6 linked regions of the Homo sapiens genome follow. The protein of the gene in region 4 interacts with the protein of the main gene of each other region in a pairwise test. Each region holds a gene or a part of one and is shown on either strand. Other genes may lie near its edges. The genes, in order: DNAJC11, ROBO2, RAI1, RPS6KA5, ALG8 and RNF19A.

Evidence for each region.
Region 1: the proteins of RPS6KA5 (region 4) and DNAJC11 interact in a two-hybrid assay, tested with the Homo sapiens proteins (one large-scale study listed by BioGRID and IntAct).
Region 2: the proteins of RPS6KA5 (region 4) and ROBO2 interact in a two-hybrid assay, tested with the Homo sapiens proteins (one large-scale study listed by BioGRID and IntAct).
Region 3: the proteins of RPS6KA5 (region 4) and RAI1 interact in a two-hybrid assay, tested with the Homo sapiens proteins (one large-scale study listed by BioGRID and IntAct).
Region 5: the proteins of RPS6KA5 (region 4) and ALG8 interact in a two-hybrid assay, tested with the Homo sapiens proteins (one large-scale study listed by BioGRID and IntAct).
Region 6: the proteins of RPS6KA5 (region 4) and RNF19A interact in a two-hybrid assay, tested with the Homo sapiens proteins (one large-scale study listed by BioGRID and IntAct).

Annotation. Positions count from the first base shown.
Region 1 is NC_000001.11:6,690,923-6,695,874, forward strand, and holds part of DNAJC11 (dnaJ homolog subfamily C member 11), read right to left. Parts: intron 1-4,952.
Region 2 is NC_000003.12:77,046,517-77,051,468, reverse strand, and holds part of ROBO2 (roundabout homolog 2 isoform 23 precursor), read right to left. Parts: intron 1-4,952. UniProt on the Homo sapiens protein: Receptor for SLIT2, and probably SLIT1, which are thought to act as molecular guidance cue in cellular migration, including axonal navigation at the ventral midline of the neural tube and projection of axons to different regions during neuronal development.
Region 3 is NC_000017.11:17,792,334-17,797,285, forward strand, and holds part of RAI1 (retinoic acid-induced protein 1), read left to right. Parts: intron 1-599; 5' UTR 600-615; coding exon 616-4,952. UniProt on the Homo sapiens protein: Transcriptional regulator of the circadian clock components: CLOCK, BMAL1, BMAL2, PER1/3, CRY1/2, NR1D1/2 and RORA/C. Positively regulates the transcriptional activity of CLOCK a core component of the circadian clock.
Region 4 is NC_000014.9:90,871,683-90,876,634, forward strand, and holds part of RPS6KA5 (ribosomal protein S6 kinase alpha-5), read right to left. Parts: intron 3,679-4,952; coding exon 3,519-3,678; intron 2,114-3,518; coding exon 1,950-2,113; intron 641-1,949; coding exon 392-640; 3' UTR 1-391. UniProt on the Homo sapiens protein: Serine/threonine-protein kinase that is required for the mitogen or stress-induced phosphorylation of the transcription factors CREB1 and ATF1 and for the regulation of the transcription factors RELA, STAT3 and ETV1/ER81, and that contributes to gene activation by histone phosphorylation and functions in the regulation of inflammatory genes.
Region 5 is NC_000011.10:78,129,323-78,134,274, reverse strand, and holds part of ALG8 (dolichyl pyrophosphate Glc1Man9GlcNAc2 alpha-1,3-glucosyltransferase), read left to right. Parts: intron 1-4,952.
Region 6 is NC_000008.11:100,299,520-100,304,471, reverse strand, and holds part of RNF19A (E3 ubiquitin-protein ligase RNF19A), read left to right. Parts: intron 1-1,070; exon of another isoform or gene 1,071-1,312; intron 1,313-2,278; exon of another isoform or gene 2,279-3,944; intron 3,945-4,952. UniProt on the Homo sapiens protein: E3 ubiquitin-protein ligase which accepts ubiquitin from E2 ubiquitin-conjugating enzymes UBE2L3 and UBE2L6 in the form of a thioester and then directly transfers the ubiquitin to targeted substrates, such as SNCAIP or CASR.

The sequences.
Region 1 (4,952 bases), on a different chromosome or scaffold from region 4:
GGCTCCTACAGCCATTTTAGGTTTCACTTTGGAAAGAGCTTAGCAGAGAAATAATCAAATCACAAATGAGTCAGAAAAGCTGAACAAAGAAACAGATAAAACAATTCTAAAAAGTTTCTACAAATAGGAACAATTTTTGAAACTTAAGTGAGTTCTACTTAACACAGAGTTAAGGAAAAAACTTACAAAACACAATACCTCCAAGATGGCAATATAAATTTGAAAAAAAGATTACACAATTAGTAACAACAGAATCCCAAAGACTGAAAAAAAAAAAAAAAAGCAGGAAGCACATCACCTGTAAGGTTTACGGGGCAGAGAAGGAATCAGGTCTTGCAGCACACATCTCGGCTACAATCACAGAATTCAAGAACAAATGGGCCCAAGGTGCAAAAATCCTGACTCCCAATCAGAGGTCATTGCAAGGGCTCAGGAAATCTTCTGCTACCATTGTACAACTTGGTTTTCATTACTCTTCCTGGTCATGTTCATATATATATTTGTTGCCCTTGAGACTAATAGAAAATCAAAAGGCCCCAGTCTCTAGAAACAAGCTCCAGAGTTGCACCAAAATTGATGGCTCAGATCCTATCTTCACAGTAAGAAATCGGCTTATTTCTCCCTAAAAGCCTGACCTTATACCTTCTGTCATTCGTGTTCATCCGTTATACCCTGCCTACTCATGCAGACTTCTTGTGGTTGATCTCTATTGGCTTGGCATTTTACTGCTGAAGAATTTTCTGGCTCCTGTCAACTAGGGAGGGTAGGCTGCACACTCAAAACATGCAGAAGTGGTTCCAACAGTCCATGAGCCAAACAGGAATCCAGCTGTCAGATTTTCATCTCGAAGGAGGTTCCACTCCAAGCTGCAAGCTCCTTCCAGGGACTGCAATCTGTACCAGGCATATGCTGTAACAGTGGTAATAATGCAGCAATGTTCTCAATTGTCTTCTTTTTAAGAAATGTGTGACTCCTTTAAAAAATATATGCTATTTTATTTTTTCATCTGTTGTCTTACATCCTTTCTTAAACAAAGGTGTAAGTAAGTAAAATTAAAATGAAAGGTTAATAAAAAGCAGACAATAAAATTCTACAGCCAAGCAAAGCATGTTGCTCTCATGTCCCGTTTTCCATTGTTTTATTACTAAATTCACAGCAAATACAAAAGTTTTCCATTGAATTCTCTTTAAGAAAGAAAATAAAAGAGGTGTTTTGGTAGATAATGCAAAATTAGAGCATTAACATTTCAAGAAGCAATTGTTTGAAATGCCCAAAGCAGAAAATAACTGGCTTATAGATCATTAAAGAAACACATTGTGAAATGTAACCTCACGTTTGCCAATCACATTATGAGATGACATTGGAAGTGGTGGGGCATCCTCAACAGCCCCCTCCCTGCACACAGGCAGCTTCTCTAAACTCCACTTCCCGGGCACCCTCTTGGGCCCACCCCTGCCCCCAGCTCTGCCTCCTCTCTGCTTGGCTCACAACTATCCTATCTTTACCCCAAACACCCAAAAAATGTTATCCTTGAGCCTGCACCCTACTCCCATACTTAGCCCCAACTTCCAGGAAAGCTCCCTATCCCCATGTCAACTTTCCAGGAAGCACAAGTTCAGAGAGATCACTGTCTTTTAAAAAGAACAAACTCAGTGTTTTGAACAGAAAGTAAAAAATGCTTCAGGAATTTTTTTTTTTTTTTTTTGAGATGGAGTTTTGCTCTTGTTGCCCAAGATGGAGTGCAATGGCACGATCTTGGCTCACTGCAGCCTCTGCCTCCCGGGTTCAAGTGAATCTCCTGCCTCAGCCTCCCATGTAGCTGAGATTACAGGCATTTGCCACCACGCCTGGCTAATTTTTGTATTTTTAGTAGAGATGGGGTTTCTCCATGTTGGTCACGCTGGTCTCAAACTCCCGACTTCAGGTGATCTGCCCGCCTCAGCCTCCCAAAGTGCTGGGATTACAGGCATGAGCCACTGCGCCCAGCCTCTTTTTTTTTCTTTGACAGAGTCTTGCTCTGTTGCCCAGGCTGGAGTCCAGTGGCACAATCTTGGCTCACTGCAACCTCCGCCTCCTGGGTTTGAGCAATTCTCCTGTCTCAACCTCCCAAGTAGCTGGGATTACAGGCGAGCATCACCACACCCGGCTAATTTTTTTTTTTCGTATTTTTAGTACAGACAGGGTTTCGCCATGTTAATAAGGCTGGTCTCAAACTCCTGACCTCAGGTGATCTGCCCGCCTCCGCCTCCCAAAGCGTTGGGACTGTAAGGCGTGAGCCACCACACCCAACCTCAGGAATTTCATAAACTAATGCTTAGCATACATTCTAGCACTATGATTTTTAGTAATATTACAAGTGGATAGCAAAGTTCATCCTTAGCCAGGATGAAGCATACCAAGTATGTCTTTCACATTTTTAAATTTATTTATGTACATGTATGTCTTTCACATTTTTATTTATTGTTATATTATCGTTTAGATGGATTCTTGCTCTGTCGCTCAGGCTGGAGTGCAGTGGTGGTGCGATCTTGCTTCACTGCAAACTCCATCTCCCGGGTTCAACCAATTCTCTTGCCTCAGCCTCCCGAGTAGCTGGGATTACAGACGCCCACCACCACACCCAGCTAGTTTTTGTATTTTTAGTAGAGACAGGGTTTCACCATGTTGGCCAGGCTGATCTCGAACTCCTGACCTCGTGATTCACCCGCCTCAGCCTCCCAAAGTGCTGGGATTACAGGCATGAGCCACCACGCCCAGCCTTTTATTTATTATTATTTTTATAGACGGAGTCTCGCTTTTTATAGACAAAGTCTCGCTCTGTCGCCCAGCCTAGAGTGTGGTGGTGTGACTGCAGCTCACTGCAGCCCCAAACTTCTAGGTTCAAGCAATCCTCCTGTAACCAAGTACCCCCATTTTTTTTTTTTTTTTTTTTTTGGAGACAGAGTCTCGCTCTGTTGCCCAGGCTGGAGCACAGTGGTGCGATCTCTGCTCACGGCAACCTCCACCTCCCAGCAGAGATTCTCCTGCTTCAGCCTTATGAGTAGCTGGGATTACAGGCGCCCGCCATCAAGTCTGGCTAAGTTTTGTATTTTTAGTAGAGATGGGGTTTCACCATGCTGGCCAGGTGGGTCTTGAACTCCTGACCTCAAGTGATCCGCTGGCCTCAGCCTCCCAAAGTGCTGGGATTCACAGGCATGAGCTACCATGCCCAGCCCCATTTTTTCTAAGAGATAGTTTAATTATTTTCTCCTCTCCCCCTTTCCCCGGTACCCTGCTTCCTACTTAGCCCTTTAGAAATGCAAATATAACCTTTCCCCTCCCCCTCACCAGACATCTTCTATGGGGCAAGTTCAGCTAACTACGTGCTCCAAGACGGATCTCTTGACAGTGGATTTGCAGACCAAATCATGTCCCCATGGCCACTTTTACTTCTTTCTGCCCAGGAAGATGCCAACTCAATTGCCAGTTAGATAAAGTACCCAGATAGCAGGGGGACCCCTGCCCTTGCTCATTTCCTCCTATACCTTATAAAAGTGCCTGCTTTCTGCTCTAAAAGTGAAGCGGTACAGCAGGACATCGTGCCCCTTCCCCAAGCTGACTTCAGAGTAAATTCACTGGCTTTGTATGCGCCTCACTCTTGTTAACTGGACTCTGCATGCGGTAAACAACTGACCTGCTTTTCGGCTGCACCTCCACCTTAGGCTGGACTACAGGTTACAGCTCATGCCACCATGCCCAGCTAATTAAAAAAAATTTTTTTTGGCTGGGCGCGGTGGCTCACACCTATAATCGCAGCACTTTGGGAGGCTGAGGCGGGCGGATCACAAGGTCAGGAGATCGAGACCATCCTGGCTAACACGGTGAAACCCCGTCTCTACTAAAAATACAAAAAAAAAAAAAAAATTATCCAGGCATGGTGGTGGGGGCCTGTAGCCCCAGCTACTCAGGAGGCTGAGGCAGGAGAATGGCGTGAACCCGGGAGGCGGAGCTTGCAATAAGCCGAGATCGCACCACTGCACTCCAGCCTGGGCAACAAAGCGAGACTCCGAATCAAAAAAAAAAAAAAAAAAAAAATCAGCTGGGCGTGGTGGCAGGTGCCTGTAGTCCCGGCTACTCGGGAGGCTGAGGCAGGAGAATGGCGTGAACCCAGATGGCAGAGCTTGCAATGAGCCGAGATTGTGCCACTGCGCTCCAGCCTGGGTGACAGAGCGAGACTCTCTCAAAAAAAAAAAAAAAAAAATTTTTTTTTTTAATTAAAGATGGAGTCTTGCTACGTTATGCCAACCCAGGCTGGTCTCAAACTCCTGGACTTAAGTTATCCTCCTGCCTTAGCCTCCTAAGGTGCTGGAATTACAGGTGTGAGCCACCCCCCAATCCTTATGTCTTTTTTTAAAGTAAGCAAAACTTCAAACTTATCAAAATCCAAGAAATAACAATATATATTAACTAAATACCTACTTATGACAGGCAATTTATATACATTCTCAGCACCTAGCAACGCACATACCACACAGGTCATCCTGGCCTACAGTAAGTGCTTAAGCCATTATTACCTGTTACCTACATTCTAACATTAAAGAAACTGATGGCCAGGTGCAGTGGCTCATGCCTGTAATCCCAGCACTTTGGGAGGCCGAGGCGGATGGATCACGACGTCAGGAGTTTGAGACCAGTCTGGCCAACATAGTGAAACCCTATCTCTACTAAAAAAAAAAAAAAAAAAAAAAAAAAAAAAATTAGCCGGGTGTACTGGTGTGTGCCTGTAATCCCAGCTACTTGGGAGGCTGAGGCAGGAGAATTGCATGAACCTAGGAGGTGGAGGTTGCAGTGAGCTGAGATTGCGCCATTGCACTCCAGCCAGGGTGACAGTGTGAGACTCCATCTCAAAAAAAAAAAAAGAAATTGAGAAACAGAAAGGTTAAATTACTAGCGTTGAAGCATAGAACTTCCAG
Region 2 (4,952 bases), on a different chromosome or scaffold from region 4:
AGTGTAATAAGAATTCCCAGCCTGGAAAGGGTTCTTAAAATACAAGTTGTCTGTTGGATTGTGAGTAGAGGGCAGGCATCAAACACCTCAGTTTATTCATAATAGTCTTATTGCCATGTGTACAGGGAGGTGGGAGGCAAGGGGGTAAGAGCTATATTTGCCCAAAATCTGTACCCACATGTTGTACATATTTTCTGATTCTTTTTTCTTTCACTTTAGTATTAAAAGTTGACATTATTCAGGCTTTCAAATCAGAAAGGTGGGACTGAAACACTTAAAAACATACTTAGCTATGAAATGTATTTACATGTTTCATGATAGCCAGTGAGGAATAACCCAGTTAAATCTGGTTTTGGGCAGAAAAGGAGGCCTTAAACCTCAACTGAATGACAACTTGATTTGTGAGTTCAGGGCTCATATGCCCATTTGATGAATTTTTTTTTTTTTTTTTGAGACAGGGTCTCCCTCTGTCACCCTGGCTGGAATGCAGTGGTGTACTCACAGCTCACTGCAGCCTTGACCTCGCAGACACAAGCAATCCTTCTACCTCAGCCTCCCAAGTAGCTGGGACTACAGGTGAGCACCACCATGCCCAGCTAATTTTTTTTTTTTTCTTTTTTTTTGCAAAGATAGGGTTTCACCATGTTGCCCAGGCTGATCTCAAACTCATGGGCTCAAGAGATCCTCCCAGTCTCCCAAAGTACTGAGATTACAGGCATGAGCCACGCTGTGTGGCCTGAAACATCTTTTCATTATTATTGTTTAACTCTTGAAATTATGCGAAAACAATTACAATGCAAAAAAAAAAAAATGTTTTGAGACCACCACATTAAATGTTGTAACTCTTCTTAGTCAATTTTGCATGGGGAAAAAAAACCAAAAAACAACAAAAAAAAAAAACACACAAAAGCAAAGACTGAGAATGTTGTACCTAGCATTTTCTTTTCTTTTTTTAAATGAAAGTAAGTTTATTAGAGTAGTAAAGAAACAGAAATGGCATTTTCTTTTTAAAAGGTTACATTTCTCCTACTCAGTTTCTACGCTAACCCATGATAGAGATGGGGTAAGAAGCACTAAAACAATTGGCGTTTGAGTAATAGCTTGTTGTTGCTGGCATTCAAAGGTACTTAGAATACACAAACGGTTATATACTTAAGATGAGGAAGGTGAAATGCTTAAGATGAGGAAGGTGAAATGCTGTCTCTGATTTAATGGAACAATAATAAGCTTGGTTTTCAATAACTGTACTGTTATCTGGCAACGTATTAAAATTTACTTTATAATAGAGATATAAAATACAAGAGTGCCTGTTGCTAGATTCATTCTAAATTTCCCCTAATTTACTCTAACCCTGAAATCTATATTTTATAATAATCGGATATATCTAAATAAGTTTAATCATATTCTAGCATTTGCTAGTATTTGGAAATATACGTATTATAAAACTTCTAAGTACGACTCTAACCTTGATTTATAAAAACTTATAAACTTTCCTTTATAATGAATAACTCTTAACTCAAGTTTTTTGGAAAGTCAAAATTCTCCCTTTTTGAATCACACTTATGAACATTTTAATTGGTTATAAGTGCTGCAGAGGTTTGGTCCAAATCCCTTAAATTCCAGTCTGGTTTCAACTGGGTGTTCCTTGCTTAAACTTGAAAAGCCTTTCAGTGGGATAGTTGAGTTATATTCCATGTTCTCCAGCTCATTTCCAAAAAGCTTGGAACCAAAGTCTAGGGAAAGAGATCCCACATCAATCCTTACAACAGAAATTAAAAAGTGGCTGTTAACCCCCTCTCCTGAGCTAAAATTTCCATGTTGCATATGGTTCTAGTTATAGTGGCCAGAAACTAAGCACATTGACCTAAGACTATTGTCTCCTTAGTATTAAATTTTTAAAATTCCATTTATTGATAAGGAAAGCCTAAGTACCACTGGTCATTAATGAATGAGAGTGGATGTGAATCATAAGACTAGTTAATTTTGGCTGTCATGCATATCCATAGCCATATCATTGAACCCACACCAAAACACAGATATGCTACATGCATATTAGACAATAGACTGTTATTGTTTTTAAAGATGGATGTTTATGGTTTTGGATAATTCTTTTCAAGCCTAAATTTGTGTGAGTGTGTGTGTGGAGACGGGGCCTCTGTCACCCAGGCAAAAGTGCAGTGGTGTAATCATGGCTCGCTGCAGCCTCAACCTCCTGGGCTCAAGGAATCCTCTCATCTCAGCCTCCCAAGTATCTGAGACCACAAGTGGACACCACCATGCCCAGCTAACTTTTTTTCTTTTTTGTAGAGACAGGGTTTCACTATGTTGCCCAGGCTGGTCTCAAACACCTAGGCTCAAGCGATCCTTCAGCTTCAGCCTCCCAAATTGTTAGGATTGCAGGGGTGAGCCACTGCGCCGAGCCCAGGCTAAATTTTCTTCTTTAAAAATTCTCAGATATAACAATAAATGTTGGAACATTAAACAGAAGTACTTGGGATAATAAAACCTAAGGTTCATGGAGACCTTGGAAATTACACAGTCAAATGAAACCATTTTTGGTAAGGTTCTAAGGCAATTAGAACAATTAACAATCCACTAGGGAAGCTAACAGTGCAGTCCAGAGATCTGGTCACCAAAGGTATGTCACTTCCACAATAGTAATGATATTGTTTTATTCAGGCTATCCTTTCTGATATGCATAACTACTCATTGTGCAAATGTAACTAATGGATAATTATAAAAAGTTATTAGATTCAATGTCTTATACTAAATGAAGGGAAGCTAAGGGGGCTATCTAGAAAACGAATTAGTGAGTGGATACCAAATGTTAATTTTTACTTAGGTCTTCGGTTCTCAAAGTGTTTATTTAGTTTGTCTTACACAAGATTTATCTCCACAGTACGTTATATCAAAGCACCAGGTAAAAATTATCCAGGATGAAATGTAAATCAGCCAACATGAACCAAAATGCAGGCTTACACAAGCATGGTCTACTTGCTAACAAATTGCCATTTGTGTGATTCCTCTCTTGTTTACTATCTTCATTCGTCGCACCTTTCACTTGGGAATCACATGTGTTTTGTAATCAGCTTATGATGCAATGGAAACACACATGTCATAGCACAACTGTCACAGCTGTGTAGGCGAGGCCACCGATAAGTTCCCTTAAGAGGCAACAAAAATTCTTAATCAGTCACCTGAAGACTCACAGCTGAAAAATCTTATTAAAATTGTCCTAACATGCACCCCAATTGTAGTCCATAATTAGTCTGATAGCAAAGTCCTCTTCTAGTTATTTTCCTTGTTCATACTAGGCAGGGAATAATAATCTAATAAAAATACTACTAATTATAACAATAAGTTATGCTTGAGTGGCATTTATAAAGTACACTGTTCATGGCATCATATATATCTTTTTTTTTGAGACGGAGTCTCACTCTGTCGCCGAGGCTGGAGTGCAGTGGCGCGATCTCGGCTCACTGCCAGTTCCACCTCCCAGGTTCAAGCCATTCTCCTGCCTCAGCCTCCCAAGTAGCTGGGACTACAGGCGCCCGCCACCACACCCGGCTAATTATTTTTTTGTATTTTTAGTAGAGACAGGGTTTCGCCGTATTAGCCAGGATAGTCTCGACCTCCTGACCTCGTGATCCACCTGCCTCAGCCTCCCAAAGTGCTGGGATTACAGGCGTGAGCCACCGCGCCCAGCCCATATATATCTTTATATACATCTTTATTTTATATATATATTTATTTATTTATATATATCATTATATATATTTTTTTGAGACGGAGTTTTGCCCGTTGCCTAGGCTGGAGTATAATGGCACAATTTTGGCACTGCAACCTCCACCTCCTGGGTTCAAATGATTCTCCTGCCTCAGCCTCCTGAGTAGCTGGGATTACAGGCACCTGCCACCATGCTCAGCCAATTTTTGTATTTTTTTTAAATAGAGAGGGGGTTTCACCATGTTGGCCAGGCTGGTCTTGAACTCCTGACCTCAGGTGATCCACACACCTCACCCTCCCAAAGTGCTGGGATTACAGGCGTGAGCCACCATGCCCTGCCTATATATCGTTATATTTTTAAAACTATTTTATTTCTCATTATAACTGTATGAGATATACATTATTACCATGCCCATTTTACAGGTAAGGACACTGAGGCATAAAAAGGTTAAATTACTTGTTCATACTCATTCAGTAGTGATTGCTCAGTAGTCTTTCAATAACCATCTTATCCTTCTTCCTTACAGGCAAACTATGTTGCAATCAATCTAGACTTCTTGCCATTTCCTTAGCACCCCTTTGTCATCTTCATGCCATTTTTCTGGTTACTTCTTTTCCTGGAATTCAATTTCCAATCTTTTTGCCCACCAAAATCCCACTCTTCCTCTAAGGTCCAGGTTAAGAGACCCATTTGGTGTTGACCCTTCCCAGATTGTACCAGCTGGAAATCACCTATTCCTTCTCTGAGTTCTCAAGACTATACTGTGTACACCTTCAAACTTCTTACTTATCAGACACTACTTTTTTTATTCTAGTGACTTGAACATTTGGTACCTTCCCTACCAAGTCATGACTTCCTTGAATGTGGGAATATTTTCACAGGTCAGCATGTTCTTCACAGAGCCAAGCAAGTTATGTTGTCAATATGCATGTGTTGAATCAAAGGAATAACCTAAACATATTCAAGCTCATTTTCTCATGGACTCTTCAGAAAATAGCTGGTCATTTTCAGTAACAAGAGCCTGGAATTCTTGTTAAGGAGTTCCAGGGCTAAGAATCCAGAAACAGTCTCTCATAGGCAGAAGCCTGGTACAGAGATGAAGCATCCCTGGAGTCTAGTTTCTGCTCTACCACTAAGTAGCAATGGGATCTGTGACAAGGCACATAAAATCTCTAAGCTTCAGTTCTCCATGTGCCCAACCAATAAGAGAGTTGTGCAATATAGC
Region 3 (4,952 bases), on a different chromosome or scaffold from region 4:
CGCGTGTGTGTGTGAGCATACATATGCTTGTGTGCACGCATGTGCGTGGGGACAGGGGCAGACCCTCCTCAGTCCCCAGCATGGCTGGGTCATGCTTGAACACGGTCGCGAAGGGACTAAATTACAGGATCCAGCAGGCCCCAGGGGATGAGGGAGCGGGAATTGCTCTGCTAAATGCTTTTGAGCTGTCAGGAAGGGCTGGGAGTGATGGGTGGGGGACATTGGGGAGGAGCTGGCAATGGGCGGGGGGGGGGCGGGTAGCTCCCCAGTGACCTGGCGCTGGGCAGCCGGTTTTGCCTCCCGCATCAGTGGCCGTCCTTGGCAAGACTCAGCTGCAGGCGATGTGGGAGCGGGAATTACAGAGCACACCTCCCTGACACAGAAGTTGTCAATATGCGCACAGCTGGTGGGGAGGCTCAGGCGAAGGGGGGACTATTAAGAGCTGCGCGGGGGAGCAGGCAGGGTGGGGAGGTGGGTGGGAGGGTGCTTTCTGAGGCAAAAGGAAGTGGCCCGTCTGAATCGCTCATCCTCTGCCCCCTCCCTGCCCATCCTCCCCTCCCTCCTTCCCTCCCTCCCTCCCTTCCTTTTTCTTTTCACAGATAACCAGCCCGAGTCATGCAGTCTTTTCGAGAAAGGTGTGGTTTCCATGGCAAACAACAGAACTACCAGCAGACCTCGCAGGAAACATCACGCCTAGAGAATTACAGGCAGCCGAGTCAGGCCGGGCTAAGCTGCGACCGGCAGCGGCTGCTCGCCAAGGACTATTATAACCCGCAGCCTTACCCGAGCTATGAGGGTGGCGCTGGCACGCCCTCTGGCACTGCAGCCGCGGTGGCCGCCGACAAGTACCACCGAGGCAGCAAGGCCCTGCCCACACAGCAAGGCCTGCAGGGGAGGCCGGCTTTCCCTGGCTACGGCGTCCAGGACAGCAGCCCCTACCCAGGCCGCTATGCTGGTGAGGAGAGCCTTCAGGCTTGGGGGGCCCCACAGCCACCACCCCCACAGCCGCAGCCACTACCTGCAGGGGTGGCCAAGTATGATGAGAACTTGATGAAAAAGACAGCAGTGCCCCCCAGCAGGCAGTATGCAGAGCAGGGCGCCCAGGTGCCCTTTCGGACTCACTCCCTGCACGTCCAGCAGCCACCGCCGCCCCAGCAGCCCCTGGCATACCCCAAGCTCCAAAGGCAGAAGCTGCAGAACGACATTGCCTCCCCTCTGCCCTTCCCCCAGGGTACCCACTTTCCTCAGCATTCCCAGTCCTTCCCCACCTCCTCCACCTACTCCTCCTCTGTCCAGGGTGGTGGGCAGGGGGCCCACTCCTATAAGAGTTGCACAGCACCGACTGCCCAGCCCCATGACAGGCCGCTGACTGCCAGCTCCAGCCTGGCCCCGGGGCAGCGGGTCCAGAATCTTCATGCCTACCAGTCGGGCCGCCTCAGCTATGACCAGCAGCAGCAGCAGCAGCAGCAGCAGCAGCAGCAGCAGCAAGCCCTTCAGAGCCGGCACCATGCCCAGGAAACCCTCCATTACCAAAACCTCGCCAAGTATCAGCACTACGGGCAGCAAGGCCAGGGCTACTGCCAGCCGGACGCAGCCGTCCGGACCCCAGAGCAGTACTACCAGACCTTCAGCCCCAGCTCCAGCCACTCACCCGCCCGCTCCGTGGGCCGCTCACCTTCCTACAGTTCCACACCGTCGCCGCTGATGCCAAACCTGGAGAACTTTCCCTACAGCCAGCAGCCGCTCAGCACCGGGGCCTTCCCCGCAGGGATCACTGACCACAGCCACTTCATGCCCCTGCTCAATCCCTCCCCAACGGATGCCACCAGCTCTGTGGACACCCAGGCTGGCAACTGCAAGCCCCTTCAGAAGGACAAGCTCCCTGAGAACCTGCTGTCGGATCTCAGCCTGCAGAGCCTCACGGCGCTGACCTCACAGGTGGAGAACATCTCCAACACCGTCCAGCAGCTGCTGCTCTCCAAGGCTGCTGTGCCGCAGAAGAAAGGTGTCAAGAACCTCGTGTCCAGGACCCCAGAGCAGCATAAAAGCCAGCACTGCAGCCCCGAAGGGAGCGGCTACTCAGCCGAGCCCGCAGGCACACCGCTGTCAGAGCCGCCGAGCAGCACGCCACAGTCCACGCATGCGGAGCCGCAGGAGGCCGACTACCTGAGCGGCTCCGAGGACCCACTGGAGCGCAGCTTCCTCTACTGCAACCAGGCCCGTGGCAGCCCTGCCAGGGTCAACAGCAACTCGAAGGCCAAGCCCGAGTCCGTGTCCACCTGTTCTGTGACCTCTCCTGACGACATGTCCACCAAATCTGACGACTCCTTCCAGAGCCTACACGGCAGTCTGCCGCTCGACAGCTTCTCCAAGTTCGTGGCGGGTGAGCGGGACTGTCCGCGGCTGCTGCTCAGCGCCCTGGCACAGGAGGACCTGGCCTCCGAGATCCTGGGGCTGCAGGAAGCCATCGGTGAGAAGGCCGACAAAGCTTGGGCTGAAGCACCCAGCCTGGTCAAGGACAGCAGCAAGCCACCCTTCTCGCTGGAGAACCACAGCGCCTGCCTGGACTCTGTGGCCAAGAGTGCGTGGCCCCGGCCTGGGGAGCCGGAGGCCCTGCCCGACTCCTTGCAGCTGGACAAGGGCGGCAATGCCAAGGACTTCAGCCCAGGGCTGTTTGAAGACCCTTCCGTGGCCTTCGCTACGCCTGACCCCAAAAAGACAACTGGTCCTCTCTCCTTTGGTACCAAGCCCACCCTTGGGGTTCCTGCTCCAGACCCCACTACAGCAGCTTTTGACTGTTTCCCGGACACAACCGCTGCCAGCTCAGCGGACAGCGCCAACCCCTTTGCCTGGCCAGAGGAAAACCTGGGGGATGCTTGTCCCAGGTGGGGATTGCACCCTGGCGAGCTTACCAAGGGCCTGGAGCAGGGTGGGAAGGCCTCAGATGGCATCAGCAAAGGGGACACCCATGAGGCTTCGGCCTGCCTGGGCTTCCAGGAGGAGGACCCCCCTGGGGAGAAGGTGGCCTCGTTGCCCGGGGACTTCAAGCAGGAGGAGGTGGGTGGGGTGAAGGAGGAGGCAGGTGGGCTGCTGCAGTGCCCCGAGGTGGCCAAGGCTGACCGGTGGCTGGAGGACAGCCGGCACTGCTGTTCCACCGCCGACTTCGGGGACCTCCCACTGCTGCCACCCACCAGCAGGAAGGAGGACCTGGAAGCTGAGGAGGAGTACTCCTCCCTATGTGAGCTCCTGGGCAGCCCCGAGCAGAGGCCTGGCATGCAGGACCCGCTGTCACCCAAGGCCCCACTCATCTGCACCAAGGAGGAGGTGGAGGAGGTGCTGGACTCCAAGGCCGGCTGGGGCTCTCCGTGCCACCTCTCAGGGGAGTCCGTCATCCTGCTGGGCCCTACAGTGGGCACCGAGTCAAAGGTCCAGAGCTGGTTTGAGTCCTCTCTGTCACACATGAAGCCAGGTGAAGAGGGGCCTGATGGGGAGCGAGCTCCAGGGGATTCCACCACCTCGGACGCCTCTCTGGCCCAGAAGCCCAACAAGCCTGCTGTGCCCGAGGCGCCCATCGCAAAGAAAGAGCCTGTGCCACGGGGCAAAAGCTTACGGAGCCGTCGGGTGCACCGGGGGCTGCCCGAGGCCGAGGACTCCCCATGCAGGGCACCAGTGCTGCCCAAAGACCTCTTGCTCCCTGAATCCTGCACAGGGCCCCCCCAGGGACAGATGGAAGGGGCTGGAGCCCCAGGCCGGGGGGCCTCGGAAGGGCTCCCCAGGATGTGTACTCGTTCTCTCACGGCCCTGAGTGAGCCCCGCACGCCCGGACCCCCAGGCCTGACCACCACCCCTGCACCCCCAGACAAACTGGGGGGCAAGCAGCGAGCCGCCTTCAAGTCGGGCAAGCGGGTGGGGAAGCCCTCACCCAAGGCTGCCTCCAGCCCCAGCAACCCGGCCGCCCTGCCTGTGGCCTCCGACAGCAGCCCGATGGGCTCCAAGACCAAGGAGACAGACTCACCCAGCACGCCTGGCAAGGACCAGCGCTCCATGATCCTTCGGTCACGCACCAAAACCCAGGAGATCTTCCACTCCAAGCGGCGGAGGCCCTCTGAGGGCCGGCTCCCCAACTGCCGTGCCACCAAGAAGCTCCTCGACAACAGCCACTTGCCCGCCACATTCAAGGTCTCCAGCAGCCCCCAGAAGGAGGGCAGGGTGAGCCAGCGGGCAAGGGTCCCCAAACCTGGTGCAGGCAGCAAGCTCTCTGACCGGCCCCTCCATGCGCTCAAAAGGAAGTCGGCCTTCATGGCGCCGGTCCCCACCAAGAAGCGGAACCTGGTCTTGCGGAGCCGCAGCAGCAGCAGCAGCAACGCCAGTGGCAATGGGGGAGATGGGAAGGAGGAGAGGCCTGAGGGTTCCCCCACCCTCTTCAAGAGGATGTCTTCTCCCAAGAAAGCCAAGCCCACCAAGGGCAATGGCGAGCCTGCCACAAAGCTCCCACCCCCGGAGACCCCCGATGCCTGCCTCAAGCTCGCCTCTCGGGCAGCCTTCCAGGGGGCCATGAAGACCAAGGTGCTGCCACCCCGGAAGGGCCGGGGCCTGAAGCTGGAAGCCATCGTGCAGAAGATCACCTCGCCCAGCCTCAAGAAGTTCGCATGTAAAGCGCCAGGGGCCTCTCCTGGTAATCCTCTGAGCCCATCCCTTTCCGACAAAGACCGTGGGCTCAAGGGTGCTGGGGGCAGCCCAGTGGGGGTGGAAGAAGGCCTGGTAAATGTGGGCACCGGGCAGAAGCTCCCAACTTCTGGGGCTGATCCGTTATGCAGAAATCCAACCAACAGATCCTTAAAAGGCAAACTCATGAACAGTAAGAAACTGTCTTCTACTGACTGTTTCAAAACCGAGGCCTTCACATCCCCGGAGGCCCTGCAGCCTGGGGGGACTGCCCTGGCGCCTAAGAA
Region 4 (4,952 bases):
TTCAAAAACCCACATTGTCCACAAGGCAAAGCAAAAGGTATCATCACAGTATGAGTCATTTCTTGTTGGCAGACATCTGGAAAACCTGTGACTTACAAGCAGCTCAAATCTAGCCCTAATTAAATTTACAGGAACCTTTGCTCTTTCAAGAATAGTCTTGTTGGCATCATGCTAGGTTGCTAAAAAGAGTAATATGTGCTCTATTCACAGTAACATTCTCTGTCCAGTGCTTTTGAATGAGGATAACCAAACAGGTTTTCCTGAAAAAAATCATTAGGAGGCAGATTCCAATGAGACCAACGGGAAACATTTTTAAAAGCATAAAAGATCGCCTCAGGCATATGCTGAGGGAATAAAGGTGCAATGGATCACTGATACACTCCTACCATGCCTAAGCTACTGAGTCCGAGAACTGGAAGAGGGTCTCCGGGTTATTGCTGTCGGCAGGATTGCTGGGCTGCAGTGTCTTGGTGGGTGTAGTTTTACCGTGAGAATGAGAGGAAGAAGAATGGGAACTCTCACTGGAACTGCTGCGCGTCTCGGTACTGGTGCTAGTCTTTTTCATTTTTCTTCTCTTAGCCAAAGGGGCCTTATCAACATTCTGAAGGCAAAACCCCTCTCTCTTGTATTTGTTAAAGGCCTGGCGGGGGAAAAAAAGGGAACCCCTGTGAAGGTAAAAGTACTGAAGCTTTCCTAGCAGTTATGACTTACAGCAGAAGACAACTTTCCATTGGCAACTGCAGCCCCAAGTTGTTTTAAGGGAACAAAGCTCTTAAAACCTTTATATCTAAGTCTATTGGCAGGGTGGAGAAGTTCATGGGAAAAAAATTCTGAGGGCTCTGTTTATATCAAACTAGCTAGGCGGTCTGAGAGTCACAATTCTAATAAATCTTTTGAAGAAGTTAGTACTACATCCTAATACGAAACAATTGACTGGAAATTCCTGAAGACCATCAGTAATCTAAACTATCCCCATTGCTTTTACTGGTTCTGTGTCTAAGATTTAAAATTCTGAACACAAAGTCCCAATGCAAGCAGACTTGACGCATTCTGAGTCTTTGCTCTTCAGTCCCATTCAATGTCATTTGGATATATACTGGACACTTACACGCATGGAGAAGCACAGCTCTACAGCTTTGCCCTGGCTTCCTCCTCCTGCAGCCTGTCTTCACTCTCCTTAGCCTAGGCTTGGATAATGCTGCAGTTACACCTTGTAGTTGTCACCTTGCAACCTATGTCACTGAGAAGATTTGGATCATCTGATAGAAATTCTTGCAGTTAATCTCTTTACCATCTCAACATTTCCTAGTTTATTACTTTTTAAATCCATTTCTGCTGCTGAAGAAGCACTATCCCTATACCTTCTCCTTTCTCAAAATAATCCCTTTGAAGGTGACTTTCTGTTTCCCTAACTCATCTTATACTATACTTCACATGAATTATCTTAATATATTTGCATCTGCTTGGCACAAATGTGCATAATCCACAGTTTCTACCAAATAGTCTCAGTCTTTCAAACATACAATCTATACTTAATACCAATGAACTTACTTCATATCCCTCCCAGTTTTAAGAATGTGTGATGTACTAAATGGTTGTAAAATGAATGGACTTTCAAATATGCCTTAGTTCCTAATGTTTATTATGGTTTTTAAAGAAATTTAGTCAGTCTATTTGAGAGGAAAAAGTTCTATTATCTCATCTCATAAGGTCATTCTAAAAATTAAATATGTATTTTGTGGGTTAGCAGTGACTCTGGTCCCCTGTGCACTTATTGTTATAAAGTGTTTATAACCATGAAGCAATTTATAAAAACATACCTAAAAGTAAAAGGACACATATTATTTTAAATGTGAAACAAAGAAAACGTATCTGAGGCTACAGAGTAAGAACATTTGATTATGATTCCTACTCAAACCGCCCAACATGTACAGAGCACAGGGCCTTACGTGGAAGGTTGCTTTCACACAGGTATGCACGGCAGCTCCGGAAGATCCTAGAATATCCGGAGTCATCAGAGGATTGGAGGACAGCTGACTTCCATCTTGTAGCCATTCATTGTACCTCAAGCCAGACATTTTAAGCCTTTTGTTTGGATCTACTGTGAGAAGTCCTTTGGGAATAGATATTTTTATTTTATGATTTGTCATTTTAAACATGGTTTAAAAACAAACTCAGAAATAAATCTCAGCTATGTTCACATGACATAATGGTTTCTATATAGCTTTAACCTCCTACAAAGATAATTAGATTTTCCTATTCATTTAAATTCTTTTGTGAATGCTGGAGTCTAATGATAAAGTCACAGTAGCCTATTTCTAGGAAGCTCCAGGCGAAGTGGCTTTTCAATCAGGAGAAAATAAACATCCAAAACAAAGATTCCCACTGGTGACTTCGTAAGCTCCAAATGAGCAAAAAGCACACAGATCTACTTCATCCATATACCAAACATTTACTGGCCATCTTCTATAGGTCAGGGAGTGCAGTAAGGCACTAGAGATATGGAGATGGAGATGCAGAGAGGAGCTATTAATATCAGAAGACACACAGGCAAAACCCCAGCTATTATAACATCAGGGATAAGTGCGATAGCAAGATACACAGGCACAGTGTGTTAGCAGGCCTGAGGGAGAGTGTAGCCTAGGGAGTGAGGGCATCCTGGAAGGCTTCTAGGAGATGAATCCTGTAGGATAAGGAGAAGTGGCTATGGAAGAGGATTAAGAGCATGTAAAGACACGGAGGGATCTGAAAGCTCAGCATATCTGAGGAATTCAAATATCCTGCAACGGCAGAGCTGGGGTGAGGAGGAAACAAAGGCAGACAGGACCAGGTCATGAGGGGCTTTGAATGTTAAATGCTAGGCTAAGGAGTCTGACCTGAAGCAAACAGAGAGTCTCCAAAGGATTTTTGGCAGAAAAGAGGCATAATCACATAGGGATTCTAGAAAAGTCCCTCTATTGACAGATGATGAACAGCTTAAGTCAGAGGAAGTGAGGCAAGGTGAAAGGATGCTGCAGGATTTGGGGAGAGAAATGGTGATGAGAACAAAGGCAACGGCAGGTGAATGGGAAGGAAGGGACCGGACTGCTAGGAGCGCTGCTGAATGTGTAGAACTCTGTGACTGGCTGCAGAAGGCAGGCAGGTGCAGGTATCCAGGAGGACGCCTAGGTTTCTGTTTTGGTGATCTGGCTTCTTAGCAGTGCCACTGTTGACAGGAGGAAAGACAGGAGGAGGAGCGTGTTTGGGGGGAAGGACAGTCAAAAAGTATTGGTTTGTTTTAGATGTGCTTGACTGAGATGCCAGTGGAAGTCAAGTGCTAGCTCATGTTAGAAATGTGGATACCATTACTAAAGAGAATGTTCTGATAAGAAAACAAGGCTGAAGAGAGTAGCCTGGAAGCCTTTTAGAATACACATGGATTCCTCGAGTAATTAACATATGAATGTATGTGTAATGGCCATGATTCTACTTCAATCACTACACATCATATAAAATGTAAAATTTCATTAGATTCTTACCTTGGATCAAATCTTTAGCCTCTTGGGATACATTCTTCCAGGCTTCTCCTTCAAAGGAGAAATCTCCCTTTTTAATTTTCTTCATGATTTCCACCGCGCTGGTACACGTCAAACTTCGGTCATGAGATTGGAAGGGAACCTGTCCTGACAACATTGTGTACTATCAGGGAAAAAGTAACAAAACAGAATGACTACCCAGATCTGTTAAAGCCACTCTAATAATCCTAATAGTAACGTAACTGGTGTAATTTACCAATTGCTACAACTAGCATGATTGAGTTTAAAAGATTACGTGATTCCTCAGGGATCTAGAACTAGAAATACCATTTGACCCAGCCATCCCATCACTGGGTATATACCCAAAGGATTATAAATCATGCTGCTATAAAGACACATGCACACGTATGTTTATTGCGGCACTATTCACAATAGCAAAGACTTGGAACCAACCCAAATGTCCAACAACGATAGACTGGATTAAGAAAATGTGGCATATATACACCATGGAATACTATGCAGCCATAAAAAATGATGAGTTCATGTCCTTTGTAGGGACATGGATGAAGCTGGAAACCATCATTCTCAGCAAACTATCGCAAGGACAAAAAACCAAACACCACATGTTCTCACTCATAGGTGGGAATTGAACAATGAGAACACATGGACACAGGAAGGGGAACATCACACACCGGGGACTGTTGTGGGGTGGGGGGAGGGGGGAGGGATAGCATTAGGAGATAAACCTAATGCTAAATGATGAGTTAATGGGTGCAGCACACCAACATGGCACATGTATACATATGTAAAAAACCTGCACGTTGTGCACATGTACCCTAAAACTTAAAGTATTAAAAAAAAAAAGATTACGTGACTTCTATCACTGAGGCAGTGAATACATCTCAAAGACTTGTAAACCAGTGGCATGGCTTGTTATGATATAGATTTAAAATCACATTTATGACTATATTCAGAGCAATAAGAACAGAAAAGGATAATCCAACTGCTTCAAAAAGATGGTATTGATGTTAACAGAAAATAGAGAGATAGCAGAACTCCTGAATAACTATGTTTTTCTATTCCATTTCCACCATCCTTTCCCCAGGACATGTAACTATGGTTAAGGACTTGAAAAACTTCATATAGGCCTTCCTATTTGATCTGTAATTACCCCTGTTTTTATTTTATTTTTCTCACTGTTGTCTTAAATACAGTGAATTATCTACAGCCACCTGTTTTCATTGTAGCCATATGTTTGAAATCTATGTTTAAGATTTTCCCCTTTATAAAGTTAACAGAATAACAAACAAGCCAAGGCTTATCTTTGTAGCAGAGATTGGATTTTAGAAAAGTGATCCTTTAAAATTCTTGGGGGTGGTTTTCTCTGCTCACTGATTTTTGGTCTTGCAGAGATGGTGGGTTGGTCATCAATGGTGG
Region 5 (4,952 bases), on a different chromosome or scaffold from region 4:
TCCCAGCCACTTAGGAGGCTGAGGCAGGAGAATCACTTGAACCCAGGAGGCGAAGGTTGTAGTGAGCCAAGATCACACCATTGCACTCCAGCCTGGGTGACAAGAGTGAGACTCCATCTCAAAAAAAAAAAAAAACCAGTTTGCCACAAGTCACCCCAATCTTCAGCACCCATAAACCTGATCAATCAACAGCCATCAACATTGAAGCAAAATCCTCCACCAGCAAAAAGATTAGGACTTGCCGAAGGTGCAGATGATCATTAGCTTTGTTTTAGCGATAAAGTATTTTAAAATGAAGGTGTACGCTGTCTTTTTAGACATAGTAGTATTGCACGTTTTATAGTATAGTGTAAACATAACTTTTTTTTTTTTTTGAGACGGAGTCTCGCTCTGTCGCCCAGGCTGGAGGGCAGTGGCGCTATCTCGGCTCACTGCAAGCTCACCTTCCGGGTTCACACCATTCTTCTGCCTCAGCCTACCGAGTAGCTGACCCTACAGGCGCCCCTCACCAAGCCCGGCTAATTTTTTTTGTATTTTTAGTAGAGATGGGGTTTCACCATGTTAGCCAGGGTGGTCTCGATCTCCTGACCTCGTGATCCGCCCGCCTCGGCCTCCAAAGTGCTGGGATTACAGGCGTGAGCCACCGCGGCCGGCCAGTGTAAACATAACTTTTACATGCTCTGGGAAATCAAAAAATTCATGTGACTCACTTTATTGCGATATTCACTTCATTATGGTGGTCTAAACCCACAATATCTCTAAGGTATGCCTGCACTAAAATCGAATGATACAGGAAGCTTAGCATGGTCCACGCACAAGGATAGCATGCAAATTTATGAAACACTTCATATATTTAAAAACGAATGTTTTTAATTGTAGTTAATGCTCTGTTTCTCAAACCAGAAACCCCTGGGATATGAGAGGGAAGTTACAGGATAAATGCAGATATATTCAACAAAACATTTACTAATTGCTTTATTATGTACCAGGTACTGTTGCTAGGCTAGAAGGGAGGAAAAAATAGATATGATCCCTAGCCCTGTGAAGTGTGTAGTTCAGTAAGTATAACAGTACAAGAAACAAATCAATGCAAATATATAGTTACATAACTACAATTTGGATTAAGTATTAGGAAGAAGAGGCTGGGTGTGGTGGCTCACGCCTGTAATCCCAGCACTTTGGGAGGCCGAGGCGGGCGGATCACGAGGTCAGGAGATCGAGACCATCCTGGTTAACACGATGAAACCCCGTCTCTACTGAAAATACAAAAATTAGCCGGGTGTGGTGGTGGGCGCGTGTAGTCCCAGCTACTGGGGAGGCTGAGGCAGGAGAATGGCATGAACCCGGAAGGCGGAGCTTGCAGTGAGCCGAGATAGCGCCACTGCACTCCAACCTGGTCGACAGAGTGAGACTCCATCTAAAAAAAAAAAAAAAAAAAAAATGGAAGAAGAAGAACAGGATCCTATCAGGCGACCAAGAAGGAAGATGTACTTTCAGTTAGGTGTCAGAGAATGTCTCTGAGGAACTGACATCATTGGAGGCCTAAAGTGTGAATGAGAGGGCCATCCATGCAGAGTATGTGGTGTGTGCAAGTGTGTAGAACTTATCTGAAAGAGCACACTGTATAAATATAGGCCCTGTGGTGTGAAAGTATTGACCTATTTGGGCAGCTATGATAAGGCCAGTGTAGCTGGCATGGAATAAGCAACAGAGACAGAAACATGCACAGTGAAATTGGAAAGATAGGCACCAAATCATGCCGGAGCTTATAAAGCCAGGATGAAAAATTTAGATTTTGATTTTATAAGCTCAGTGGAAATGATCTGCATTTATAAAATATTTTTTGGCTCCCATATAAATGATTGGAGGAGGCAGAAGGAGAGTCAGGAAGGCTAGGTGCCCTTTGAGAAAGTCTACATGAGAGAAGATGCTGACTTGAATTGGAGTGGTGGCATTAGAGATAGAAATGGACAAATTAAAGATTTATTTTGCCTTGAGGTCAGGAAGGATTTGCAGAGAAAATAACAACTAACTTTGGAAGTATTTGGTGGTTTAAGAGCCGTAGCTAGGGAGTCAGACTGCCCTGGTTAGAATCTGGCTCTGCTGCATACTGGCTACATGACAGGGCAAGCTGCTTCTCTACGCCACTGGTGAAATGGTAAGAGTTAAAGAACCTACCTCACACAGAGTGTTGCAGGCAGAGGGAAAAGGTGAATGTAGAGTAAGACAAAGACAGGTGGGAGGATGGTGAGAAATGGGCTGAAAAGGTGAGTAAGCGAGATCCAAAAATATCTTTTAGACTATGTTGAGTACTTTAGATTTTATCCAGAGGGCAGAGGCCAGTTAAAAGGGAAATATAACATTCGTGATTTAGAAATACTACTTTGGCTGCAATGTGAAAGCTAGATTAATGAAGGGCCTGAGTGAAGATGGGGAGTTCAATTTAAGAAGCTATCATAGGACAAGTAAGAGATGGTAGGTTTTTGTTTGTTTTAATTTTTAGAGACAGGGCTGGGTGCAGTGGCTCACACCTGTAATCCCAGCACTTTGGAAGGCCAAGGCAGGCAGATTGCTTGAGCTTGGGAGTTTGGGACCAGCCTGGGCAACATAATGAAACCCCGTCTCTACAAAAAATACAAAGAATTAGCTGGAGATGGTGGTCAAAAATTTTAGAGACAGAGTCTAACTCTGTTGCTCAGGCTAGATTACAGTGGCACAGTCATAGCTCACTGCAGCCTCAAATTCCTGGGCTCAAGCCGTCCTCTGGCCTCAGCCTCCTGAGTAGCTGGGACTACAGGTGCACACCACCACACCAGCTAATTTTTAAGTTTTTTGTAGAGATGGGAGTCTCATTATGTTGCCCAGGCTGGTCTTGAACTTCCAACCTCAAGCTATCCTCCCACCATGGCCTCCCAAAGTACTGGGATTATAGGCATGAACCATTGTGCTCGGCTGATTGTAGATTTTGTTAATGCAATTTAAAAAAGTAGTTACTATTTATCATTATGTCTCTAGTCTTAGTTTTGCTTTTTTTTTCAAGTGTCATTTCAGCAATTAAGATTACTTTTACTGATGGGTGCAGTGGCTCACGCCTGTAATCCCAGCACTCCAACAAAAGTGAAGTCTCCAACAGTTTTGAATAGGAAACAACAAAATAAAGCACCCAAAAAAGAGACTGGAAAAAGTCTATATAGTACAACTATATAGGAAAAGAAAGTGTCCCCAAACTCACTCAGATTTTGTAAATGCTGTCTCCAAAGAGAGTAAAAAAGACATGTCTATAAAACAAGAACAGATGCTATGAAACAGGAATTATCAGAGAAACAGTGGTTAATAGAAAATGTTATTGCCAAAATTAAGGACAAATTGAGTAAATCTTTCAAAAATATAAGAGAAAAGATAAAAATTATAAGTTCAATCTAGGGTGTCTAGCATCCATCTAAAAAAATTTCAGAAAAAAAACACAGGGGAGGAGATTAACAAATAATAAATTTCCCAGAGCTGAAGGCACTACATACTCAGCATAATTAATGAAAAAAGACCCTCATGAAGACATTAATCACTAGACATTTCAGACTGCTATGGATAAAAAGGAGAAACAGGAAACTTCCAGAGATGAAGGGAAAACCATAAAGTAAAGAGACTTACCAACATCAACATTTTATACTAAAAACCAATGGAATAAGCTTCCAAAGTTCAGTGGAAGTAAATTTCAACCTAGAATTCCATACAAAATCCAGTATAAAATACCAGAAGTGCAAATCATAAATGTACAGCTCACTGAATTTTTGCAAAGTGAATACATCTGTAAAAAGCATATAGATCAATAAGCAGAATATTATCCCTCGGGCATCTTTCCAGCCACTCCCCACAACCCCACCCCACTAAAGGTATTGATATTCTCACCTTTTTTTTTTTTTTTTTTTGAGACCGGGTCTTGCTCTGTCTCCCATGCTGGAGTGCAGTGGTGCAAACTTGGCTCACTGTAGCCTCAGCCTCTTGGGCTCAGGCAGTCCTCCCACCTCAACCTCTTGAGTAGCTGGGACTACAGGGGCGTGCCGCCATGCCTGGCTAATTTTTAAATTTTTTGAGAGATGGGGTCTCATTGTTACCCAGGCTGGTCTTGAACTCCTGAGCTCAAGTGATCCACCCGCCTTGGCCTCCCGAAGTGTTGGGATTACAGGCGTGAGCCATCATGCCTGGCCTCTGATGTTCTTTTAACCGCATAGGTTAAATTTTGCCTGTTTTTGAATTTTTGTTTGGGTTTTTTTTGTTTGTTTTTGAATTTTATACAAATGTAATCATACAATCTATTCTCTTGGGTCTGGCTTTCACTCAACATTAAGTTTGTGCGTTGTTGTGTAATTACTGTTTTTTCATTCTTATCACTAGATAGCATGGTTCTCAAACTTTTTAGTCAGAATCACTTCTTAAAAATAATTGAGGGTCACAAAGAGCTATATGTTTATGTGGGCTGTATAATAGATAATTACCATTTTAGAAATTAAAACAAATTGTTCAAGCACAAGAATATACAAGCACAAATTTCACTGGCCTTCAGAGTGATGACATCACATTATGTAGCCTCTAGAACATCACTGTATACTTGTGAGAGAATGAGTGAAAGTAGAACAAATTACATCTGAATATTATTATGAAAATAGTACATATTTCAAACTCCTTGAAAGGGTCTCCCTGTGAGTCCCTGAATCACACTTTGAGAACTGCTGCTCTACAGTATTCCATTGTGTGAAAACACCACAATTTATTTAGCTATTCTGCTGTTTGTGGACATTTATCTCCACTTTTTACCTGTTGCAAATAGTTTTACTTTGCACATTTTTTTTTTTTTTTTGAGACGGAGTCTTGCTCTGTCGCCCAGGCTGGAGTGCAGTGGCGCGATCTCAGCTCACTGCAAGCTCCGCCTCCTGGGTTCATGCCATTCTCCTGCC
Region 6 (4,952 bases), on a different chromosome or scaffold from region 4:
AGTGCGTAAGTGGGGAAAATAAAGTAACCATTTAGAAAAGCCTGTTATCTTAGGGTATATGATGTATATAGTACAATGACTGTAATTCTTTTATCCAAAGCAAGGGTGGCAGTGGTTACCTGGTAGGCAGTTGTGACTTCTGGTTGTATACATAGCCATATCAAATAGATTTCTCCTTATAGCCATACCCTTTAATATAAAACCAACTTTTGTCAGGCATGGTGACTCATGCTTGTAATTCCAGCACTTTGGGAGGCCAAGGTGGGCAAATCACCTGAGGTTAGGAGTTCGAGACCAGCCTGGCCAACATGGTGAAACCCTGTCTCTACTAAAAATACAAAAAAAAATTTACCTAGGTATGGTGGTGGGCACCTGCAGTTCCAGCTACTTGGGAGGCTGAGGCAGGAGAATTGCTCCAACCTGAGAGGTGGAGGTTATAGTGAGCCGAGATTGCGACATTGCACTCCAGGCAGGGTGACAAGCAAATCTGTGTCTCAAAAATAAAAATAAATAAATAAATAAAAACTTTTTTTTGGAGACAGAGTTTCACTCTGTCACCCAGGCTGGAGTGCAGTGACGCAATCTTGGCTTACTGCACCCTCCGCCTCCCAGGCTGAAACGATTCTCATTCCTCAGCCTGCCAGTAGCTGGGATTACAGGCACCTGCCACCACACCCAGCTAATCATTTTTTTTTTTTTTTTTTTTTTTTACAAGCGGCGAGGTTTTGCCATGTTGGCCAGGCTGATTTCGAACTCCTGGACTCAAGTGATCCGCCCACGTCAGCCTTCCAAAGTGCTGGGATTACAGGCGTGAGCCACTGCACCTGGCCCATTTTTAAAATTATGCACAAACGTTAAATATCCTTTAGATTTTTGCATAATTTAGCATACCTTACTGATGTCCTTAGCAAAAATTTCCAGAACCATATTTTAGTGTGTTGCATGGTAACCCCACAAAAGATATGTTCATGTCCTAATCCCCAGAATCTGCAAATGTTATTTGGAAAAAGGGGTTTTGCAGATGTAATTAAGTTAAGAATCTTGAGATAAGATCATCCTGGATTATCCAGGTAGCCTCAAAATCAAGTGACAAGTGTCTTTGTAAGGGACAAGTAGACCCATTACAGAGAAGACGACGCGCAGAAAAGGAGGAAGCAGTGTGCTCATGGAGGCGGAGATTGGAGTGATGTAACCGCAAGCCGAGGAATGCTTATAGTCACCAGAAGCTGGAAGAGTCAAAGGACACATTCTCCCCTCAAGCCCCAGTGGGAGCACGGCCCAGCTGGATTTTGGACTTCTGGCCTCCAGAACTGTAAGAGAAATGTCCATTGTCTTAAGCCAACCAGTTTGTGGTAGTTTGTTACAGCAGCCCCAGGAAACTACTATGCAGTCAAAAGTCTTCAGTAAACCAAAAATCTCTAATTATCGTTGTTTTATATCATGTGCTATGATGATCAGAGACTAAACAGCTCTTTCGTTAGAATTCTAATTCTGAGAAATATCAGAGGAAGTGTTTTAATACCCTCCAGTCTCAACAGGAATCGATTATATCTTATAAGATACATTTTGTTATTTTGCTTGTATCGTTTCTTTCTTCTCCTAACTTGCTCCTTCTTTGCTCTTTGTATACTTTTTAAGATGTAGTTGACATGGGGGAGGGGAATGAGTAAAACACTAGTAGGATAGACCAACAGGTTTTGTCTTCTTTAAAGTGTAATTCCTCCATGATCCCCCTTCCACCTTTTCTGTCTCCTTTACTGGATTCGCCTCTTCTCCCCTACATCTTAATGTTGGGATGCTACAGACCTCATTCCCTACTCTTTAATATTTACTTTTTGGTGATTTCATCTGTGTTCACGATTTTACATACCATCCAAATAACAGCAACTCCAAAATTTACATCTCTAGGCTTTACTTTTTTCCTAATCTCTGGGCTTGTCAAACGGGTGTTTGGATATACATCTCCACCTAGGTATAAGAGATATCTCAAGTATAAATGTCTAAAAATGAACTTCTGGTCTTGGCTCACTCTTAAAACTTGTGTTTCATAGCCTTCCCCATTTCAGTTGATAGCAGTTTCAGCCTTCTGATTAATCAGGCCAAATCCTCTTGTAATCCATCAGGAAATCCTTACAGTTTTACCTTCAAAACATGTCCTCAACACCTTCACTGATGTGCCATCGTCATCTTTCTCATAGATTACTTCAGTAGTCTTTAAACTGTTCTCTGTGCTACCATCCTTAATACCTCCCCATCTGTTCACAACACTTGAATGATCCTTTTAAACTTAGATTTTAAACTATCTCTGTCACTTTAGAAACCCAAGTTTCCCTGTCTCACTTAGAATAAAAGCCAAAGTACTTACAGTGGCCTTAACCCCACACAACCTGGCATTCTCATGTATCTCAGATAGTCTTTGCCTTGCTCATTAATTTTCAGCCATATTAGGGCCTCCTGGCTATTCCTTGAGCATACCAGACACATTCCTCCCTTAGGGGCTTTGCAGTGGCTGTTCTGTGCCTTGGATGCTCTTTCCCCAGATTTCCACATAGCTAACACCTCCTTTACCTCCTTCAGGTCTCTGCTAAATGCCACCCTTTCAATGAGACTGTGATCACCCTGTTTAAAATAGTAATCAACACCACACATACACTGATCTCCTTTGCTCTGCCTAACTTTTTTCCCCACCTTCTAGTAAAGAATAATATTAAAATATTTAGACGATATTTAGAAAATTGTAAACTTGTATATAAGAGCATGGAGTAACTTTTAGTAATGCTTATTTATAGTTACTGACCTAGAATGATTGTGGAGATAAGATAGGAGTTGGGCCTTGAAAGAGGAGTAGGACTAGCAGTGAAGATGGAAAAGAATACTCCAGGCAGAGACAAAGGCGTAGGAAAATTCATAGAGTTGAAACTATATATGTTTTGTTAAGATATTTAACAAATAGGTCAGTTGGCTAAAGTGTGGGGTTTTTATGTAGAACAGTGAGAAACTGAGGTTGCACTGTGGAGGGCTTTTAATGCCACAGGAAACTTGAAATTTATTCTTCATCTCGGGGAAACCAGTGGAAATTTGTAAGCAGACTTTAACAAAGAGGATAATGTGGTAATTTGGATACCAGGTGATTAATGAAGGCCTAGTCTAGGCAGTAAGATAGTAGAAAGAATGCTGAGCCTTTAGCTCTGCCACGTTAGCTGTGTGGGTAAGTCACATCTCTAGACCAGTGCTGTGCAATAGAACTTTCTGTGGTGAAGGAAATGTTCTAGACCTGTTCAGTCCAATATGGTAGCCAATAGCAACCTATGGTTGTAGAGCATTTGAAATGTGACTAGCACAACTGAGGAACTAAAATTTAATTTTAATTTAAATAGCCTCATGGGACTAGTGGTGATACATCGAACCTACTAGCTCTAAATTCAGTTTTCTCACTTACAAAAATAGGTTAGATTAGAATGCTAGAGTCACTAGAAGGATAGGTTTCACAGCCACATAAAGTTGGTGCAGCCTCTTGAGAAGAGCAAGTAAGTACATGAGCACAGGGACCTTTACATGACTAGTTTTTTTGTCTGTGTGAAATAGGTCCAGAATTTGTAGCCTTTTCACTCTTTGTATCTTCTTGACTTACTTAAAAGACTCACTCTGTTTTTTGATGGCTGCTTTTTCAAATTAGTCTTTGGATTACTGTCTCCCAGGAGTTGACTAGTTAAATATCTGATACATCTAATTTAATAGTCTGTTTTAGAATTGTAGTTAAACTGATTATGTTGCTTTTGTTTTTTTATTTTTTAATTTTTTTCTATTTCATTTTTTTCAGAGACAGGGCCTCACTGTGTCACCCAGGGTGGAATACAGTGGTGTGATCATAGCTCACTGCAGCCTGGAATTCCTGGGCTCAAGCAACCCTGCCACCTCAGCCTTCCAAGTAGCTAGGACTACAGGTGTGCACCACCACACCCAGCTAATTTGTGTAGTTTTTGTAGAGATGGGTTTCACCTTGATGCCCAGGCTGCTCTTGAACTCCTAATTTCGAGTAATCTGCCTGCCTTGTCCTCCCAAAGCGCTGGGATTGCAAGCATGAGCCACCATACCATGCCCAGCTGATTTTGTTGCTTTTGAATTCTCAGTAAGAAAACCGTAACAGAGATAAACCTTTATGATTGTTTACCTGCTGTGTAATTATTACCTAGATTTTTCTGTCTTTAGAAAATACTCCCTTTTCTTTCCTTATACAGTTAATAATATTTCCTTTGTACGTGAGTTTTTAATCTCATTTTCGGGAGACTTGTGTAAAGAGAAGCTAATTTGAATACTACATACCCAAAGGGAAACAGACACATTTTGCTTATTGTGCCTCTTGGTTCCCAAGAGATATTATTCCATCTGAGAATTACCTTATAGTTTGAAGAAAATTTTAAAACTAAGTTCTAGGATCTCTACCAAACACCTCTTACAGATTGCACTCTTATCTCCTATGTACATATATCATTCAATTACATGCACACACAATGATTTAGCTAACCAGAGGTCTTCCCTCCCCCTTACTCATGGTGTCCTTTAGGAGAAAGAGACAAATGAGCTTCCAAAATTGGAGAGGTGGGATGCTACTGTTATCAATAATTTGTATGGAGTTGAGGGATTTCCAGAGAAAGTGGTTAGGATAAGATTAGTCCAAACACTTAATACTTTTTTTTTTCTTTTTTTTATTTTGAGACAGAGTTTTGCTCTTGTCACCCGGGCTGGAGTGCAATGGCACAATCTTGGCTTACTCAACCTCCACCTCCTGGGTTCAAGCAATTCTTCTGCCTCAGCTTCCCGAGTAGCTGGGATTAAAGGCATGTGCCACCACACCCAGCTAATTTTGTATTTCTAGTAGAGACAGTGTTTCACCATGTTGGCCAGGCTGGTCTTGAACTACTGACCTCAGGTGATCTGCCCACCTTGGTCTC